Homo sapiens: one gene and its partners. The protein of the gene in region 3 purifies or fractionates together with the protein of the main gene of each other region. This does not show direct contact. Each region holds a gene or a part of one and is shown on either strand. Other genes may lie near its edges.

Region 1 (7,030 bases), on a different chromosome or scaffold from region 3:
TGATCCGTTGACCTCTACCTCTCTAATTGCTTAATATCCTGCACTCTCCTTCAGCCTGCTCTGGTTTCTCTTTAAACCGAGGCTAGATTTGTAGTCACTCCCTTAAAAAGATCCTCAGCTCTCTTACTCTCCATCATATCTGCTTGGCAAAACTCTAGTCCTGGACCCAGCTATCCATTTTCTCTGTATCTGTATCCACGTTGGTGAAGGTTGCTGGAGAAAAACCAGAAAACTGAGCTCATTAGTTTCACCTTAAATTAACAATCACCAATTTTACCTATCAAAGACCAGTCTATCCACTTATGTCCTGGAGAGCCTCCCTTTTTGCTTCCCAAGGGGATATGGTTATGACCTCTTTCTGTGACATCTCAAACTTCACAGGTTCAAACCTGAACTTTTTCCACCCAGAGCTGGTCCCATTCGCCTGGAAATGTGTAAATGCCACCATTATCCACCAGTTGCTCCAATCAGAAAATTGGGAGTCATTCTTAAGTCCTTGCTGACCCTCACTTTTGACATAAAATCCTGCACCAATTCCTGTTCTCCAACATATTTCATAAATCCCTCTCCACCAATACCAGGCTAGTCCAGGTGTCTATCATCTCACCTGAACTCTGCAAACATTTCCTAATGGGTCAGCCTACTTTCTCTTTTGACCCTTTCCAAACATCTCCACAGCAGCTAAAATCATCTTAAAATGTAAATCGTCATAAAATGTCTCTCCTTAAAATCGGTGCTCCTTGTACTTAGAACTACAGCCATCTTCCTGACTATCACGTAAAAGGTCCTGAATGAGTTAGTCCCCGCTTCCCCTCTCTAACCTTATCTGTATATTGTCCACCCACAGCATTCTCTTCTAGAAAGAGAAAACAACAACCACTTTATGTACCTTGGGAGCTTTCCATATACTGTTCCATCTCTATAGCAGAATAATTCACTCAGCCCTTGTTAAATTTATTTTGTAATATTTTATATAATTGTTTCTTTACTGTTTACTATTTCCCCCATTGGACAATAAACTGCACGAGGGAAGAACCATGTTTGTCTTGTCCGTGATCACTGCCTCCACATTGGCTGGCAGTGTAACTAAGGATGCAATAAAAATTCTTTGTTATGGAATACATCAAAAAAATTCAGGACAAAAAGACATGTAATAATTCTCTAGATCAGATTTCTCTTTTTGCTGAAAACACATGTGGGCCCTTAAGGGGTAGGTGATTTATCAATGTTATTGTTATGTTAATGTCTCAGTTACCTCAATGTCCTGGTTTCTGGCCCAGCAGGGATAAATACATCTCCTGATGTCCTATGTCCTTTATCACGCCTGCAGTCTTACTCTTTCACATTTTTGGTGTATCTTCTTTCTCACTTTTCTAACTCATTTACAATCCTTTCTTTAAAAATTTGTCTTCACCTGTCCTGTTTTTTCAGTACTAAAATACAACTATGTTCATTCACCACATTTTCCATAGCACCAGTACAATAAAAAGTGACTTGGATAAAGCTTTTCATTTCCTTACTGCACAATTTGCTCAAGTTGTCATTCTCAATATTGTCTCATTTCCCCATACCCTGACAGAGTGACTAGCTAAGAGGCAGAGAGTGCAGCCATCCCAATGGCAGCACACATAGTTACTCTTTATGTTTCTAAACATCCTGCAAATTATTTAGGACGGGTGTTTTGTTTTGTTTTGTTTTGCTTTTCCATTAAATAGCCTCTAAGCTTTGAAGCAACCAAGAGAGAATCGGAGTAAAAAAATTATAGGGTTAAAGAAAGAAAAAATAAACAGATCAATAAAATGAAGAAATAATAAAGTGGAGAAAAGGAAGGATGGGGAGGTGGTTTAGAAAACAAAAAGGGTTCCAAGCAGCGGGGCTGTTAAAAGGACCAGAATCTAAGTCAGGAGGTTGGGGGTGGGGGTGGGGGTGGGGCAGGAGTCTGAATTCTTTTTCTCCTATACTGATGAGCGATAATTAACTATGGCCTGGACTGTCTTTCCATCTAAAAAACTAACTGCCCGAGGAGTAAAAACTGACACCAATCCTTCTCCACGGGGTGGGAGAGATAATAAATGGAAATCTTCCAACAAAAATGCTCTTTATCTCTCTGCTCTATTTTAAGAGCAAGATTTTTAGGGCATAATTTTCAACAAGTTTTGGCTGAGGCTGAACACAGGGTTCAAAGATAATTTAGGACAGTCAAAGAAGAGGCCAATTACTTTCTAACAGAAATGGCCTAAACACCACGATTACATTACTGGGAAATAAACCAAATGACTGCTAGAAATACCTGTTCGCAAAGCAGCACTGCATGATCTTCCATGAAATGCCCTGCATCAACCCAAAGTAGCAGGGAGACTATCAAGGGGGCGAAAGTAACCTGCCTGTCCTTTCCTGCTGGGACACATCCTACCTGGGACAATGTCTCCTTGCCTTCTTTCTCCTGGGCCCAACCTCAGGACTTGCCCTTAGCTCTAGGAACCAAGAGGAGGAGGAGGGGGAATCAGTGGAACAGACACCCTTCTCCACCCTTCTCACTTTCCACCTTAAGGTGCCAGGAGATGAGGGACCCCGCAGCTCAGGGCGGACGCCCGGTGAGGGCGCAGAATCGGGGAGGATGGATGCAGCGCGTGGCGCAGACTGCATCTTGACCCTCAACTCCGCCGCCGCTACCTTCTTTCGCGCTCCTCCCCGACCCGCTCACCTCCGCGCCCCCCGCGCCCTCCACGCCGGGCAGGGGCGAGCCTTGCAGCTCCCCGGGAGCGGCGCCGACTCCCCAAGGGCCCACCCGGGGGCCAGGGCCTACGGACTGCACCTCCGACTGGCGGTTGCAGGGTGGCTGCCGCGGCGGTCGCACTCCAGCTGCTTCCCCGCCTACCCAAGCTGGATCGCGAACAGCCAGGGGAGAAGGAAGGAGGGAGGCGCGCGGAGGCCGGCTTGGCAGCGACGCGCCGCTAGGGGCTGCGTGCCCGGACAGCTCGTGGCGCCGAGGGCCCGAGGAACGCTGACTGGAGTCGGGAAGAGCCGTGGAGCGCGGGGAGGAGTCGGGGAGCTCGGAGGGGGCGGGGGTGTGTGAAGGGAGCCGGGCTGTGTGGAGGGAGCTGGGAAGGGCCCAGAGCACCGAGGGGGAGCCAGCAGTGAGTGCACTGGGGAGCTCCACACACGCGGCTCCGCAGCTTTGCGCGCCCTTCTACCGCGAGCGGCTGAGTATCCGCCTGGCTCCCCTGCGGGGTTCCTCCGTGGTCTTCCGGAGATTCTTTCTGAAGCAGCTTTAGAATAGTCAAGCCTATTTTTCTACTCCATTTCTTTTTGTAATGTGGGGTCACCTTTCCGCTCTAGAAATTGCTTTTCTTACGCGATTCCCACCCCAACTCTCGCCAAGGGCCCTGGTTCTCATCTCCCCAGTCTTAGCTTCTGACAAGCCTCCAAGAAACTGCGCTTTTTTCTTTTGTAAGTGTTCTTTTGCCTCATGTTTACCCTATCCCAAACGTCTTTTGACTAGACTGTGTCCTTGGAATAAAATGTTCGGAAATGCCCTTTCATGAAAACTCCCTCGGATAGGAGGACCCTCACAGACCCTGGACTGCAGAGATTATTCTGTTGACTTTGACCTTCACTCTAGCTGGTGCCGCGCGAGCTTTGGTGTGGGGGAAAGGAAGGTTAGGCCGTGAGTCAGGAGACCTGTGTTCCTGCGAAAGCCATTTACCTTCTGGGGCCGCAATGGCTTTGAATGTTTCAGGGGATCCCCTGAGAGCACCTTTGGCTCTGGGTTTCTGTAAATTTTCTCCCTGCGGATTACCAAGTAAAAGTACCTTTTATCTTTTGTGTAGAAGGTGTCAGTAGAAGAAGCAAGAGATCTTTATTCCCAAATATAAAATCAACTTACCAAAAATTCTCAAATTTGGGGAAATTTTTTTCATACATTAGTAAAGTACCATTTCAACAAATTAAGTTTAAAAATTATCCCTCTAGGTGGTTTATTAACCAGACCAAAAAAACCCAACAACAACAACAACGAGAGGGGGGTCTTAGATCGATCACTGGGGCACTGCACTTTCCCCTTTGTAGTCCATACACAGATTAACCTTTGTAAATGCTGCTTTGGAAATACATCCTTTGTTTGACTTGAAATGTAACCCCTCCCCTACCGCCAAATATTATTAAGGTTTAAAGTTTAGGCAGAAGCTAAGGTTTTAACGATGTGTCAGGGTGTGGAACCATCGACAGCTGGTAGAATACTTTCCATTTTGGTTACTGGAAACAAGTCATTAAATCTAATATCAATTTTAATAATTTCACTTCAACAAAACTGTCAAATAATGAGATTCGTGGAGTTTTTTCTAGTAGTTCCTCTGGAGAACTTGTGGAGAAAATTCATGAATCTTAGCAGTTAACGGAAAGTATATTGCTTTTCCATATATTTTAAAAAACTATAGAATTATATAACTTCCCCACGGGGATATTAAAAGAAATTGCACTTTCTAACTTCTATAACCATAAATTATCATGTAAAACATGTAGGTAAGCCATATATTTTAAATATGTTTAAAAGCTCTCTTAACATGGGCTTTGACTATTGAGAAAATAGATAAAGTAATGTGAAATCCCTTTTCCTAAATGAGAATCAGTGAGTCAACAATTTGCAGCTTCCAAAAGGGATATCTCTTTTTCATGCTTGAACTATTAAAATAAACAAATATCTTTGATGGGAAATCTAATGTTACCAAATGTGTTCCAGAAGACTGTTGGTGTTAATGCAAAGCATGATTCCTTTAACTTCCATGGTAACTAATTTTATCATTGTTTTTCAGCTGGAGATGCAGAGTATGAAAATGATTTTGCAAGACTTTTCCAGGTCATGAGGTGCTCTCTGAGAAATCTCTTCTGTTCCCTAAAGTAGTAAGTGACTCAACTGAAGCGAAGCAATAATTATTAAATGGATCTCTAGTGGCCTAGGGGCATTAACACATTTTTTTCCTTTGAAGTTATTATACAATTAAATAACTTTAGAGTGGTAGTTCCCAAAATGTGTGACTTTAGGCACTAGTTTGCCTAAATGCTGCTCTAGCAAGTCATTCACTTCAAAAATATTGAGCCACTTCTATATGCCCTGGCTGGCACTCTAGGAACAGTGGTGAAGAAGACAGATATATTTACCTGTCCTGATAGAAGTTACAGTTTGGTGAAAACGATAAATTAGTAACAAGTGCAAATAAGATTTATGCAGATTTATTTACACAAAATAAATGTAAGTCGTGATGTAAATAGTAGATTTTGAGATAAACAATAAGAGAAATCTCTTCATTTTAGAGATCCACAATGTATGTTAATAAATTAAAGGCTCTGAAAATTCCTATGGTAAAAACATTTTACCTAACCTATTCCCCAAACCCCCAAATTTGTTTTGAACAAATTTGTTTGTAAGCAGTGCTTATAATAAAATAGAATAATTTTTGTGAAATGCTGCTTTGTTTTAAAACCAAAGAATTCAATAAACATGAAATTCTGTTAACATCACCTTACATTTATTTGTCAATGTACATTAATATACATCAATAGATTTATACATGTAAATATAATCTGAAGTAGACTGTGTTTGCACATGTTTATACCAGCGCAATTCACAATTGCAAAAAATATGGAACCAGCCTAAATGTCCATCAACCAACGAGTGGATAAAGAAAATATAGTATATATATACCACAGAATACTACTCAGCCATAAAAAGGAACAAAATAATGGCATTCTCAGCAACCTGGATGGAATTAGAGATGATTATTCTAAGTGAAATAACTCAGAGTGGAAAACCAAACATATGTTCTCATTCATAAGCTGGAGCTAAGCTATGAGGACACAAAGGCATCAGAATGATATAGTGGAGTCTGGGGGCTCCAGGGGGAAGTGGGGTGAGGGGTAAAATACTACGTATTGAGTACAGTGTACACTGCTCTGGTGATGGGTACACCAAAATCTCAGAAATTACTGCAAAAGAATTTGTTCATGTCACAAAAAGCCACCTGTTCCTCAGAAACTATTGAAATAAAAAATAAATTGTTTAAGTATGATTAAAAAAAGAAATACGCTGTGTTTGAACACAAAATGATACACAAGGATTTATAAATCTATTAAAATGCTTGAATGTACATCTGTACAAAACACATATTTATAATTAACATTATTTCATAAACATATTTCCAGAGATCAACATGTTCTAAAGTCTTATAATTCTTAATGGCTATATAGTTTATATATTGGTATAGACTAGTTTTTCCTTCCTTCCTTCCTTCCTTCCTTCCTTCCTTCCTTCCTTCCTTCCTTCCTTCCTTCCTTCCTTCCCTCCCTCCCTCCCTCCCTCCCTCCCTCCCTCCCTCCCTTCCTTCCTTCCTTCCTTCCTTCCTTTCTCTTTTTTTTCAGGGTCTGAATCTGTAATCCAGGCTAGAGTGCAGTGGCATGGTCAAGGCTCACTGCAGCCTCAACCTCCTGAGCTCAAGTGAGTCTCCTGCCTCAGCCTCCCAGAAGCTGGACTACAGGCAGGCACACGCCACCACACCCAGCTAATTATTTATTACTTGTAGAGAGGGGATCTCCCTAGGTTGCCCAGGCTGGTCTTAAATGCCTAGGCTCAAGTGATCTTCCCACATCACCCATCCCTCTCACAGTGTGCTGGGATTACATGTGTGAGCCACTGTGTTTGGCCTAGAATAGTTTTCTTAACCCTAAATTTTAGGAAAGTACATTTTCTGATTCTTTAACTATTATAAGTAACACTGCTTTAACCTCCTTGAACAAATTACTCTTTGGAGTAATAAGTGATGGGAATATTTTCTTGGGATATATTTTTTAATGTGGGTTTTTTAATTAAAAGAAATTTTATTTTTTCTGTTTACATAGTCTCATATTTCTTTCCATAACAATTGAAAAATCATTATAAAAATATGGATGTACTTTTATCTTTTAGATTCAGTATCTCATTGACACTGAATTTTATTATTTGTATTTGTTTAAGTTGATTAAGGAAGCTTTAAAATGT
Region 2 (7,037 bases), on a different chromosome or scaffold from region 3:
CTGATGTGTTGCTGTCACTCCCATGGGAGGACAAAAGAGAGGACTTTGCTTTCTCTCCCCACTCACACCCTGCACCAGGACAGGCCCAACATGTGACACACACTCGATCGTTCTCTCATGGAGAGGGAATGAATGAGAGAATGAATGATGCAAAACCTCTTTAGAGACTAGATCCTGGATGGCCAGGCAGGTGCTGTCTGATGGGCTTACTGCCTGTTCCACACACATCTGTGTCCTCATGATGGCACCATTGTGATAAGATGGGGTCCTTCAGGTGGGGAGACGCATGAGCCACTGGCGTCTCACTTAGACTCTGTCCAATTCGCAAAAACCTAATCCAATTCTACTTGTGTCTCCCGAGGTCAAGAGAAAATGAAGAAAGCATTGCGCATACCTGTTTTGGGCTCCTCCCAATTTTGCCTAACTCTGCATAGGAATTAGGGGCAGGAAGCTTTCTAAATTTACTAACATAACACACATCGCTTCTCCTAATTTGGCATTGTTCCTCCCTTTATGGAATTGACACACCTAAGACTTCCTCTCTGACCGGTTCTGTCCTCTTAACAGGACTCACGTGCCTCCCTCTACCTGGGAGTTGCTAATTTCAAGCGAACTTCAGGATCTTCCTTTGAGCATAATGTGATCCTGCTGGAATTCACAGGACGCCTAAACCTTATTTTGTTATCAAGAGAAATACTCCTTCCACCAATTGATTTTAGATCTGTGGACAATTAATAGCAATTTCTACTTATGGAAAAAAATTCATGTTTCCTCCAATTTTGTTTTTGACTATAGTCAAAACATAATATCTAAACTCCTGACAAATTTTAAAATGCAAATTAGAGTTACACATTGACCATCAAAAATCCCAAATCTGAAATGCTCCAAAATTCCACATTTTTTGGCCACTAACGTGATTCTCAAAAGAAATGCTCACTGGAGCATTTTGGATTTGGGATTTTCAGATTTGAGATGCTAAACCAGTAAGTATACTGCAAATGTTCAAAAATTTATAAAAGTTAGAAATTCAAAACACTTTTGGCCCTAAGCCTTATGCATAAGAAATACTCACTGTATATGAGCTATAGGCACAAAGCTGTACAGCAGATCTCTAGAACCTCCTCATCCTGTGTAACTGAAACTGCAGACCCATGAACAACTCTCCATTCCCCCCACTCCCAGCCCATAGCAACCACCATTCTACTACGTGATTCCATGAGTGTGACTACCCTAGGAACCTCATGTAAGTGGAATCCTACAGTATCTGTCCTGTCAGTGGCTTATTTCACTCTGTATAATGTCCAGTAGGAGAAAATATTTGCAAAACTTCTTCCCAAATTTCTCTCTCATAACTGTCAAACACCCACGGTCCATGAGGGCCAAATTTCCAGCACTTCAGGCTCCCCCTCCCCACCCGTCAGTTTGCATTTGCAAATGTCCACATGTATTTATGGGAGGATCCACAGCTCCTCATCTGCCCCCCGCAGGGAAAGAAGGGACATTAAAAACCAAGGAAAGGAAACAAGGTTCTGCTCCAAAGCCACCTGTTCTTGCCTGTCCCCTTCACTCCTTCTAGATCATTCCTTGGACTCTGCTCTATCTTTAGAGGTCACTGACTCAAGTAAGTCACGATGAAACACCTGGGAAAAACTGCCCCACCTTGTGGCTCCACTGCCTGACGACGGAACCGACCTCCAGGCTTGCCCCGGCCTCCCCTGTGTTATTTCTGTTGAAACACCCAGTCAGGAATTAAGGATAGTGGCATGTCCCATCATCTCCCATCTCTAGAATGTTCTTGGAAACAGAACCCTCAAAAACACACCTCGAAGGGCAAAGTAGGACTGTGAAGCTGGAAGGGACCCAGCACCTACATGTTCCAGGTGAGGACCCCTAGGTAGGCCAGGCAGGCAGCCGGTCAGGGAGGGACCAGAAGAGGCACCAGGATCTGTAACTCCCAGTCCTGGGTCTGTCCACAACCCAGCGCTGCTGCCCAATTCACATTTGAGAAAGTCTGTGTTTCTCCCACACAGAGAAGGCGGCCTCATGGTCTCTGAGCCCCGATCATTGTGCATCTGTCTTGTGACACACACACCCACCGTGGGCTTTTAAGGACTCGAGTAGGCTGAGAGGTGGGAGATGCCAACTCTAATTGAAATTTGCCTGTGGAGGAATCAAAGGTGCCACACAGGGCAATCTTCTCTCTGTTTTCTGCACAGCGGAGACTCCCAAGCCCTCCATCTCCAGCAACAACTCCAACCCCGTGGAGGACAAGGATGCTGTGGCCTTCACCTGTGAACCTGAGACTCAGAACACAACCTACCTGTGGTGGGTAAATGGTCAGAGTCTCCCGGTCAGTCCCAGGCTGCAGCTGTCCAATGGCAACAGGACCCTCACTCTACTCAGTGTCACAAGGAATGACGTAGGACCCTATGAATGTGAAATACAGAACCCAGCGAGTGCAAACTTCAGTGACCCAGTCACCCTGAATGTCCTCTGTGAGTATCTTCTGTTCCTCTGTGGCCCAGGCCACCAGCCCAAATCCACGCAGCCAGAGGCCAGGCCTCTCAGTCCCTCTCAGCTCCAAAAATGCAGATTCCCCACCCACCCCTAGAAACCCAGCTCGTCATGACTTTCTGCCCCAGGCAAACATGGGTAGGCCTAGCCTTGACCAAGAATAAGAGGGGAGGGGGTGCTCCTGTCATGGGAGACTTGGAGTCCACATCTTCTGATGGGAGAAACAGGTAAATGTCTCGGACTCTGTCTCAGTAGAAACAGCGGGGGTTTGGTTGGGGTTGGTTGGGACTTGGCTCAGGTTTGTGACTTGGCTCAGAGGGACACTGTGGCTCTTCCACAGACCAGGAGCTTCCCCTTCCCTCTGATGACATCACCTGTGACTTTATTCTTTTGCTCTAGATGGCCCAGATGCCCCCACCATTTCCCCTTCAGACACCTATTACCATGCAGGGGTAAATCTCAACCTCTCCTGCCATGCGGCCTCTAATCCACCCTCACAGTATTCTTGGTCTGTCAATGGCACATTCCAGCAATACACACAAAAGCTCTTTATCCCCAACATCACTACAAAGAACAGCGGATCCTATGCCTGCCACACCACTAACTCAGCCACTGGCCGCAACAGGACCACAGTCAGGATGATCACAGTCTCTGGTAAGTGGATCCCTGGAGCACTGGCAGTATGTTTTCTGGTAGAGTCTATCTGGCTTTCAGAGATGAGCCAGAAAAAAAGTTTTATTCCCAGCCTGTGTCCAACAGCACAAGCAAATCCCCAACTTTTCTCCTAAACCCTCCCAGTTTATCTCTATAGACTCTCTTCTGCCTGTTTTTCTGATTTCTCTTGGCTGACCTCGGGGCTGACCTGAGAAACGTGGAGAGGGGCCTTCGTCAGCCCCAGAGCCCTATGTCATGGAAAGGACTTCACCAAGGGGGAAGAAGGAGGGTCCTCAAGGTCAAGTTGCTTTTCTTTGTCACCAACACATGGCACCCCTGTTTCTGTTACCCCTTTGTTTTCTTTTACCTATGCCATTAGCTGCAAGAAACATCCAAGGCTTTGAAACAAGCCCACAACGTTCCCCAAATGGGAGGAGGAGCCCCTTGGATGACGGAGGAGCAGCTCAGACTGCTCCCATCTCTGCTCCCAGCTCCCTGGTGACAGGCCCTGCCCTGACTCCACCTGGGGTGGGACCCAGGTGTATGGAAAAGGTGCTCAGGTGGCCTATCCCAAATCTGGCTAAATCAAGTTGCCAGTTGAAGCCAAGCCTCCCCCCAGTCAGGCTGCACAAAAATGGGAAGACAGGGAGCCTCCGGGAAGACTCCTGAGCAGTGTCCTAGCTCTGAAGTCACGGGCTGCATGAGGCTGTGGATACAACACAGAGGACAGTGAGTGATGCACACTTGGAGACACAGGGAGATTCAGCCACAGGGTCTCTGCATGAGAGGGAAGGGGTAGTGCCAGTTGCCCAGGCTGGAGTGCAATGGCACTATCTCGGCTCACCCTCCGCCTCCTGGGTTCAAGCAATTCTCCTGCCTCAGCCTCCCAAGTAGCTGGATTACAGGCATGTGCCAACACGCCCAGCTAATTTTGTATTTTTAGTAGAGATGGGGTTTCTCCATGTTGATCAGGCTGGTCTCGAACTCCCGAACTCAGGTGATCCACCCGCCTTGGCTTCTCAAAGTGCTGGGATTACAGGCATGAGCCACCACTCCCAGCCACCATTAACTATTTCTATGCGTGCAATTTAGTGTTATGTAACCATCACCACCATCCATTTCCAGAACTTTTTCATCTTACCATATTAAATAAACTTCTCTGCCCAATAAAGAGTAACTCTCACTCCTTCTCCCTCTAACCCCTGGCAACCTCCATTCTACTTTCTGTCTCTATGTAATTGATTATTCTAACAACCTTATATAAATGGAATTATATAATAGGTGGCCTTTTGTGTCTGGCTTGTTTCACTTAACATAATGTTTTTAAGGTTCATCCATTTTGCACCATGTATCAGAATTTTCTTCCTTGTTAAGATTGAAGAACATTCCATTGTATGGATACACCTCACTTTTCTATCCACTTATCTTTCAATGGACTTTGCAGTTGTTTCCACCTTTTGGCTATTGTGTGACTAATGCTGCTGTGAACATCAGTGTACAAATATCTGTTCAAATCCCTTCCAATTCTCTTGCATATATGTCCAGAAGTGGAATTGCTGGATCCAATGGTAATTCTTTGTTTAATTGTTTGAGAAACAGCCATACTGTTTTCCACAGTGGCTATAACATTTCACACTTCCATCAGCAATGCACTAGAGCTCCAATTTTTCCACTTCCTTAAAAACACTTGTTGTTTGTGTGTGTGTGGTTTTTTTTTAATCAAAGCCATCCTAATGTGTTTGAGGTATTCTATCATTGGGGTTCTGATTTGCATATCTCTAAGTATCAGTGATGTTGAGCATCTTTGCATGTGCTCATTGGCCATTTGTATATCTTCCTTGGAGAAATCTCTATTTCAGTCTTTTGTCCTTTTTTAGTTGGGTTTTTGGATTTTTGCTGTTGTGGATTTGTAGTAGTTCTTCATATACTCTGAAAATTGATCCCTTATCATACATGATTTACAAATATTTTTCCCACTTCAAGGTTGCCTTTTCACTTCCTCGACAATGTTCTTTGATATATAAAAGTTATTGATTTTCATGAAGTCCAACTTACCCATTTTTTCTTTTGTTGCCTATGCTTTTGTTGTTATAACCAAGAAACCACTGTGAAATCCAATGTCATGGAGTTTTTTTCCCTGTGTTTTCTTCTGAGAGTTTTATAGTTTTTACTCTTACATTTGGTCTTTGATCTACTGTGGGTTAGTTTTTTGTATATGGTGTCAGGTAAAGGTTCAGCTCATCTTTCTGCATGGATTTCCAGCTTTCCCAAAATCATTTGCTGAAAAGACTGCACTTTCCCCATTGAGTGGTATTGGCATCCTTATCAAATATCATTTGGCCATATATGCAAGCATTCCTTTCTGGGCTTTCTGTTCTATTCCGCTGGTTTCTGTCTTCCTTTACGCAAGTACTGCATTGTATTGATTACTGTGGCTTTGTAGTAAATGCTGAAATCAGGATTCAGCATTTTTTTTTCAAGGTTCCTTTTTTCATGATTGGTTGGCTATTTTGAGTCCTGAAATTCCATATGAACTTTAGGATAGATTTTTCTATTTCTGCAAAAAAATGTCATTGGAATTCTGATAGAAATTGTGTTGAATCCATAGCTCACTTTGGGTGGTATTATCCTCCTAACAATACCGTGTCTTCCAATCCATGAAAACAAAATGTCTTCCCATTTTTTGAGGTCGTATTTAATTTCCTTCAGCAATGTTTTCTAGTTTTCAGAATACAATCCTTTCACCTCCTTGGTTAAACTTATGCCTAAGTATTTTATTCTTTTTGATGTTAATGTGAATTAAAATTTTTTTCTTAATTTCCTTTTTAGATTGTTCATTGTTAGTGTATAGAAATGCAACTGATGTTTGCATGCTGATTTTGTATCCTGCAACATTACTGAATTTATTAATAAATTCTAACAGGTTTTTTTCATCCTTAGAGTTTTCTACAAAGAAGTTCAAGTTGTCTGTGAACAGACAGATAATTTTACTTCTTCTTTCCAATCTGAAAGTCTTCTTTTTTTCTTGCCTAATTTCTCTGGCTAGGACTTGTAATACTATGTTAAATAGACGTGGCAAAAGCAGGCATCCTTGTCTTGTTCCTGATCATAGGGGGAAAGCTTTCAGTCTTTCTCTATTGAGTATGATGTTAGCCTTGGGCTTTTCACATACTGCCTTTATTATATTGAGATAGTTTCCTTCCATTCATACTTAGCATGTTTTTATTAAGAAAGAATGTTGAATTTTGTCAAATGAAATTTTTATTCAATCTTCCTACTAATTATAGGTCTATTCAGATTTTTTGTGTGTGTTTCTTGGAATTTGTCCATTTCATCTAGGCTATCCAATTTATTGGCATACAATTATTCATAGTACTTTTGTAAACAATATTTCTCTAGAATTGATATATAATATCTCCATTTTCTTTTCTTTCTTTCGTTTTTTTTTTGTTTGTTTTTTTTTTTTTTTTGAGAGAGAGAGAAAGACGAGTCTCACTCCTTAGGTCAGCCCAGGCTGGAGTGCAGAGGTGCGATCAAAACTCACTGCAGCCTCAACCTCCTGGGCTCAAGCAATCCTCCCAACTCAGCTTCCCAGGTAGCTGAAACTACAGGTGCATACCATCATGCCCAGCTGAATTTTTGTTTTAATTTTGTAGAGACAGGGTCTCCCTATGTTGCCCCAGCTGGTTTCAAACTCCAGGCCTCAAGCAATCCTCCCAATTTGCCTTCCCAAAGTGCTGGGATTGAAGGTGTAAGCCACCATGCTGGGAGTCCATTTTCATTTCTGATTTTAGTAATTTCCATCTTGTCTCTTTTTTTCTTAGTCAGTCTAGTTAATGGTTGGCAATTTTGTTGATCTTATTTTGAAG
Region 3 (7,037 bases):
TGGTGTTATGTCTCAAAAAACTTATCATAAATAAAAAAAATCACAGGTCAACAATGCATTTAATGGCCTGATAAACCCATCTTAAAGTCAAAAATTGTAAATGTAACCATCATAAGTTGGAGACCCTCTGTATTTGTGAAAGTAAGAATAGGATGTTGAGAGCAGGAAGGAGAAAATTAAAAAAAAAACAAAACAGGTAAACATTTTAAACAATTATTTTATTAAACGATCATCTTTTACATGTCATCAGACCTTACCCCTGAAGTGCAAAAAACAGTTTGAGGTATTAAAACTGAAGAAACATTTGCACATATTTTGTAAGGTTTTTCACACTATAATAACTGTAAAATTCAGTATAACTAAATACTCCATATAACTGCAGATTTATAAGAACAAAGTTGTAAAAAACAGACCTGGTTTATCTCATTATAACTCTGATTCTTCCATTTATGATGAAAGGGTGGCAAAAAATAATGTGATACTTACGTTGCTTCCCAAGTGACATGTGTCCATTATTCAATTCTATAAAATGGAGTATAGAATTGAAAAGGCCAACAGCTGAAACAGCAGCCGTTCCAAAAGCATAAAAATCAAATTGACAAAACAGCTTAAATGATATAATGTCCTATTCACAGAACTTAATCGTAGAATCAATGGCAATTCACTTAAAGTATCTGAAATAGATTTACCAGCATATTTCAATACTATCCATGTATATACAGGGTCACATTAGTAGTATGGTCAGTTAATCATGTTAACACAGATAAAGCTCAGAATAGTCACTTCAAAGTTATTTTAAAGTAACACAGGGAAGAGTAGATTGGCTTTTTATGTGATTTAAACTTTTTTTGTAAAGAAATTATCCAGAGACTTTCCAGATCCCACTTTACTTGGCAACTATACCTTGAAATAAAAAGTTGATGCAATTATATAGCTAATTATTATAATATAAACACTTCCTCCTGAAATATTCAGGCAAATTGGAGAAAAAGTGTTTTTCAACTTGAGGATTGATTTAATTATTAACTCACATTGTAGACATTTCCTTTGAAGCAATTGCTTGATGATTTGCATGCAGTATAGTAAATTAAGTCCGGACTAATGGGTCACAAATGTTGAATAGAAATTAGTGATTACAGCAATTGCTTATAGTTAACATGGCAATTCTAGTAACTTCACATGCTGGGTTTTGGTGTTGGCTATTAAATTGTTTTGTTTGTTCAGTGCATAGGTAGCTTAAACAAAGAGAATGTTGATTTTTTTTGTAAGAACATGGGCTGCTTAAAGCTTGCTTTTTTGCAAAACTGATAAAGGATCAGAAGCTTCTTGCAGTTTACTGTTAGAGGAAAATATTGTTTATTCATGGCAATTATGACACCTACAAGAAGATACCTTAAAAAGAAACCCTCTCCTGATTATTGCCTGGCATCGAAAATATGGGGGAAGGAATATCTTTTTATGTAGATTCCAACAATGTTCTGCAAACTACACTTAACCTAAGTTTCCTTTTTGTTTTAGGAAAAAGGGAATCTAAATTGTTAAAAACCCTTCTAGGAACTCTTTTCACAACTACAGCTTGTTTTCACATGTGATGATTCTTGAATTAAAAATAATCTTTGCATAGTTACCTCACTGCTGGAAGCACAGCTGCAACAGCAGCTGAACTGTTTACCTGGGAGGAGAGTTAACATGTGCTGGTGTTCTCACCTGAACCAGAAGAAGAAAACTGATCGCAGCCATTCCTATTCTAATGAATAATGATCTAGGGCCACTTAGCAGTAGCCTTGGAAGCTAACAACTATTTTCACTATCTTCTACACAAAAGGGTGCCCCAGGTTAAGAGATATGTCCCAAGAGTTTCTTTTAAAATGAATATGGTCAGACATGAAAATCGGCCAAAAACACAGGAGGTCATAGAATGAGTAGTTAAATCTCAGGTATCCAAATTGGCCAGTCCTATTAAAACACATCCTGAAGCTGGGAATATCCGGATTAAAACAAAAAGCAACATTTATTCTAGGACCACGTGTGCAAATCTAAATGCCATTAATGCTTAAGGGGGAAATGCAACACATTTCATTTTTTGTCTACTCCCACCTTTTATCTTTTAACCAACAATCAAAAGAAAACTGAAATAAAATGAAATATTACTGATCCTGTAAGCCCTAAGTCCTGAATATTTTTCACTTATTGTCAATATATTCACTGGTGGCATAAAAATACGGCTCGCCACGTACATAAGTGACAATAGCAATATAATAAACTTCTTTCACTATCATTATGCTGACAAGCTATACTGTGAAATTTATCAAACCTACAAATATTGAATGTGGACTGACATGAAATTCAGACGGAACACTGACTGCAGTCACACATAGTTTAGTCAGTGAAGCCTTCTCCAGAGAGCAGGAATCTGTTATAGTCAGTCAAAGACTGGGTTTCTTATGCCATTCAACACTAAACTTGTGGGTCCCTTCCTGTGCAGAAGGGCCAGTGAGCACAGAAGAAGAGAAAAGCTCGTAACTCCCAGAATGACCATTCCTGATATCAGTGCGCTGGTGATGGCGTTCAGCTGGAAGGGAGGCATACTTGGAGAACCTGCAAATAATAAAACACACCCGGTTGTAAAGGCCCCATATAATATTTATCTCACCTTGACCCAATTTTACCTGCAAAACATCTTTCATCAGCATCTCATAGAATAGCAGCATGGCACTGAATTGTGTTACAATCTATTTGACTGTAATTCAACCCAATACCAAAGGATTGTATGGTTTAGAGGCTGCCCATGGGCAGCCAAAATCAAAAATACCAAAAAGCTATCAAATGCTATAAAAATTGACCAATAGATCACATATGAGTTTGAAAACCCTCAGTGAACTGTTATCTAAAATGGACCAAACTTGGAAAACTCAAGCTCATTACACTTAGATGATTACAGCTTTGTAACTGATCACCAAAAATGTAAAAAACATTGCAAAATATGTTAATTATCTTACCAAGTTGCGAATTGTTGGTTGGAGTCTCATCTGAGGGGAAAAAACAGAAAAAGAGAAGTGACATCATCTCTCCAAATATTTACCTTTGTTTATTCTGATTAATAATTACATTGTACCTACATTTTTACCTGTTATCTCCTCTTACGTCCACCCATAATCTCCTTGAGTAAGGCAAAAATGAAAGTCCCCCTAAACCATTCTGCTTGTCCATGCCCTGTTTCATATGTCCTGGATTTCATCATCTTTCTATTCCCCAAGCCCACATCCTACCCCTGCCCTAGGTATACAAATGTAATAGAAAAAAATATACAGTGTGCTGTTTTCTTGCCTGACAACTTTGTTTCATCATTAGCTCTCCAGTCAGGCTGGTGGGGGCAGTAATCGTTAACAGCTATTACATTTTTTATGGCCCTATAACCTGCTATTTGTTATTCTGTTATACGGAATATTCATTATTTAGTGCCACTCTATTTTAAGTATTGCCAATTTGCCCAACGTAATCTGCAAACACATCATTTTAAGTTCCAAGAAGATAAATTTACACTTAATAACTATATGAAAGGAAAACATGACTCCTGAGCCTGAGTTGTAGTTTTATTTGCATCTGTTAAGTAAAAGATTGAAGCTGTTGATTTTTGACTTTTCCCTGCCAAACACAATAATAGATGCGATAAACATATTACTTGATTTCCCAATTTTTGTTGTCCAATTTGTCATCATGTTGCTATCAACCCTGGAGCTTGTACGAGCTCATATTTCATATTTGAAATAAGAGTAATTTCATATTTGTGTTTTAATATTTGTGTTTGTTATTTGAACCATATAATGCGTGCAATTGACTGTTTATTTCTGGAATATAAATATTATTACAATCAATATGTGTATAAAACCACATAGTTCATAAACTGCTGTTTCATATATTATCACATTTCATCCTCACAGAAGCCATATGGTTTGGATATTATTGCTACCCCCATTTTACAGATAAAGAAATTTCCATCTGTCACAGCCTTTATGACAGAGTAAACATGTGCTTAAAACAAAGCTCAGTTTCAGAGGCCTTTTTCTAAAATAATATAAACTGACCAATATGAAAAATATTTCTGGTTATGAAGATGAATATCTCAAGCTATGAATCTCTAGGATTAGTATTTTAAGCAAGTAATGGGAGAACCTGGTGAGATATTTATAAAATATCTGACACCATTTTTTTTCAGACACATGAATCTTGGCAGAAACGATGGTTCTGCTGTCTGATTCTGAAGTACAATGCTCAAAATTAATACAGCACTCATTCATAGGGTTCTTTAGAATGGTGCAATGCATCGCTATAGGACAAAAAGAAAAATAACACACATTTTTATTATACAACATTCAGAAAAATCCTAACCTCTAACCAACACTACTTTATAATAACACTTCCTTCTCATGGAAACAGGTGGGATGAATGGACTATGATCAATTCTTCCAAAATATCCATGTGCTCTTTTCCCAAGATGAGCTGCCTCACTGGAACATAGGAGGAGAATATATAATGCTAAAAATTTATTTTTGAAAGCTATTCTTTTTTTTAGAAATCACACTTAATTGCTTTAAAATATTTCAACTAAAAAATAGAAAGTTCCTTTCTAATAAGTGTTTCAAATAAGACAAGAGTGCTATGACTAGATGCCCTTTCTGCTATTTTCTGCATCCTAAGGTTAACAAAAGTCAGACTGTCCCCTGCACTCCCCGTATTACCACCAACACTTCCATAGAAACAGTATCTCAGTTGTCATTAATGAGGACTTCGCTGTGGACAAAAATCTCCGTGTGTGGGGAAAAGACACACCCTTTTCCAAATAAGACTGGAACGACAAAATCCAGGTTCCAGGACTCTGAAAAAATGAAAGCATACTACCTTTGGCAGGTGGTTGAAATCGAAACCTGTGATATTTGAATACTATTTGGAATTGTATTTGACAGTGAATAAAGGTAGAGAGAATTGCTTTATCTAGTTGCTATTTCTGGTAGCCTCCAATTTTTGTATTATTGCAAAGAAAACAAACAAACAAAAAAAATCAAAGCACTGTATAGCCTTGAAAGGGAAGGTAGACATTTTTTCAGGAGACTTTTATCCCACCACACTTTTTTATTCCTTGAACCCACTTGGTCTTGACATGTACATATATGCTAAAAGAAACACCTGAAGCCTTCTGGAATTAGAACTGATTGGAATACCAAACTTTTGGGGCTCTCCAAGAGTATATTTATCTATTTGAAAGCCTATAGGAGAAAGGTGATAGCAGCAATGCCACAGCCATTTGAAAGCCAGAAGTGGCAGACAAATTGTCATTCTCTGCTTTCTCATGTAAGTAGTTGAAATAATAATTTTAAAAATGACCACCAAAGATACATGCAGAATAATTTTTTTCTCTTAGTACTAGAAAAGTTTTTTTTTTAAAAAACTTTAATAACCTATGTAGTAAAATGGACCACACATCTCAAATTAATAAGCACCGACCTTTTTACTTTTCACAGTGTTACGTTCGTTCATAGTCTGTTTCTACCTCTGAACTCTAAGATCCCTGAGGACAAAGTCTGTGGCCTGTTCTCTACTATACTCCCAGTTCCTAGACGAGTGCCAGTCCCAAGAAGGGACAAACAAGTATGCTCAAATGAATTATTAACTACTCATAAAACTCAGCAATTCTAATCGAACAAGAATACGGCTTGGGTTTCTCCACAGGAATTTAAGTAAACAAAACAATTAGGTATTGTTTTCTGGTGTTGGTGCCTTTAGATTTCCAGAATTGTACTCTTTGATTAGCATTTCCCTATCCAAGCACTTTCAGCATTTTGAAGTTTTAAATAAGAACACTTCAGGAAATTTTTCTTGAGGGGTTGCATTATGAGGGTGTGAAGATTTTCCTAAGTCAAGTAACAAAACTATTAACTATGTTGGGTAAAAAATATCCAGAATGGATTTGATTTCATTAAAAAGCAAAACAAAACAGGAGTTCTCAGGTTTAACAACTTACTGAACTCTACCTAAGCTAGATGTCTAGGGAAAAGGAGTGGTTCAATGAGCAAATAGAGCAAAACTTCCAAGCATCAGAGAGCTTTGAAGAGAGCAAATCAAGCCTGAAATTGGATTTATCTATATAAAATTGGCCACAGGACCTGAAGAGATAAATTCTAGCTGACCTAAGGTAAAAATAAAGTGAAACTAAGGAAAAAAGGTAGTTCTGGTCATGAAGTTGAACATGAAGTTTGCACAGGATTTGCATGTGGATGGATATGGCTTGAGTTCTGAGTTCTGTGTTCATGTGGAATTTTTAAAAATATATATTTTCATGGATATCATAGTATTACAATGTAAACATCTTTATATGTATATGTTCCTTTAGGCAGTGAGACCACCATGATGATCAAAGAAGACCACGCCAAAATTGTATTTATCAAAATTATTTAAAAATAATTCGAGAGAGAATGAGAGAGGATTCAAGGGGACCCTGAAAGCATGAGTGTGCTCCTCTGGGGGCTCTGCTGGTGGAGAAACCTGAGGTGACCCTGAGAAAACTCTAGCATGTTGGGCAATAAGTGACATTCTTGAGGTGGAAACTGGTTGAAAATTGGAAAGAAATCCAGGCATGACATCAGAGGCATTGTGATAGCTCTTTGTGGTGTTAACATAGATATTTTGGGCAACTGGATGTGGGATGGATGAAACCTATAAACCTGGAGAGCTGGTTACTTATGTTAGAATTAGAGACTTCTACTTATTTATCTTTACTGGGATTTCGGGGGTCTTAGAATTTTTTTTGTATATTTAAAGATTATTTTACACTAACGATACGGTTTGCGTCCCCACCCAAATCTCATCTTGAATTATAGCTTCCATAATACCCACATGTTGTGGGAGGTAATTGAATCATGGGGATGGGTTTTTTTCCCATGCTGTTCTCATAATAGTGAATAAATCTCACAAGATCTCATGGTTTTATAAAGGGCGATTCCTCTGCACATGCCCTCTTGCCTGCCACCATTTAAGATACG

Evidence for each region. Proteins that work in one complex are often made in the same cells at the same time.
Region 1: the proteins of ZPLD1 (region 3) and STEAP2 purify together in Homo sapiens (affinity purification with mass spectrometry; 2 studies listed by BioGRID and IntAct, with this or other methods). This does not show direct contact.
Region 2: the proteins of ZPLD1 (region 3) and CEACAM8 purify together in Homo sapiens (affinity purification with mass spectrometry; 2 studies listed by BioGRID and IntAct, with this or other methods). This does not show direct contact.

What each region holds. Positions count from the first base shown.
Region 1 is NC_000007.14:90,207,720-90,214,749, reverse strand, and holds the start of STEAP2 (metalloreductase STEAP2), read right to left. Parts: upstream 3,011-7,030; 5' UTR 2,705-3,010; intron 2,475-2,704; exon of another isoform or gene 2,414-2,474; intron 2,394-2,413; exon of another isoform or gene 2,291-2,393; intron 931-2,290; exon of another isoform or gene 890-930; intron 1-889. UniProt on the Homo sapiens protein: Integral membrane protein that functions as a NADPH-dependent ferric-chelate reductase, using NADPH from one side of the membrane to reduce a Fe(3+) chelate that is bound on the other side of the membrane.
Region 2 is NC_000019.10:42,584,915-42,591,951, reverse strand, and holds part of CEACAM8 (cell adhesion molecule CEACAM8 precursor), read left to right. Parts: intron 1-2,216; coding exon 2,217-2,495; intron 2,496-2,913; coding exon 2,914-3,168; intron 3,169-3,547; coding exon of another isoform or gene 3,548-3,837; exon of another isoform or gene 3,838-4,036; intron 4,037-7,037. UniProt on the Homo sapiens protein: Cell surface glycoprotein that plays a role in cell adhesion in a calcium-independent manner. Mediates heterophilic cell adhesion with other carcinoembryonic antigen-related cell adhesion molecules, such as CEACAM6.
Region 3 is NC_000003.12:102,473,004-102,480,040, reverse strand, and holds the end of ZPLD1 (zona pellucida-like domain-containing protein 1 isoform 2 precursor), read right to left. Parts: intron 3,030-7,037; coding exon 3,000-3,029; intron 2,599-2,999; coding exon 2,423-2,598; 3' UTR 200-2,422; downstream 1-199. UniProt on the Homo sapiens protein: Glycoprotein which is a component of the gelatinous extracellular matrix in the cupulae of the vestibular organ.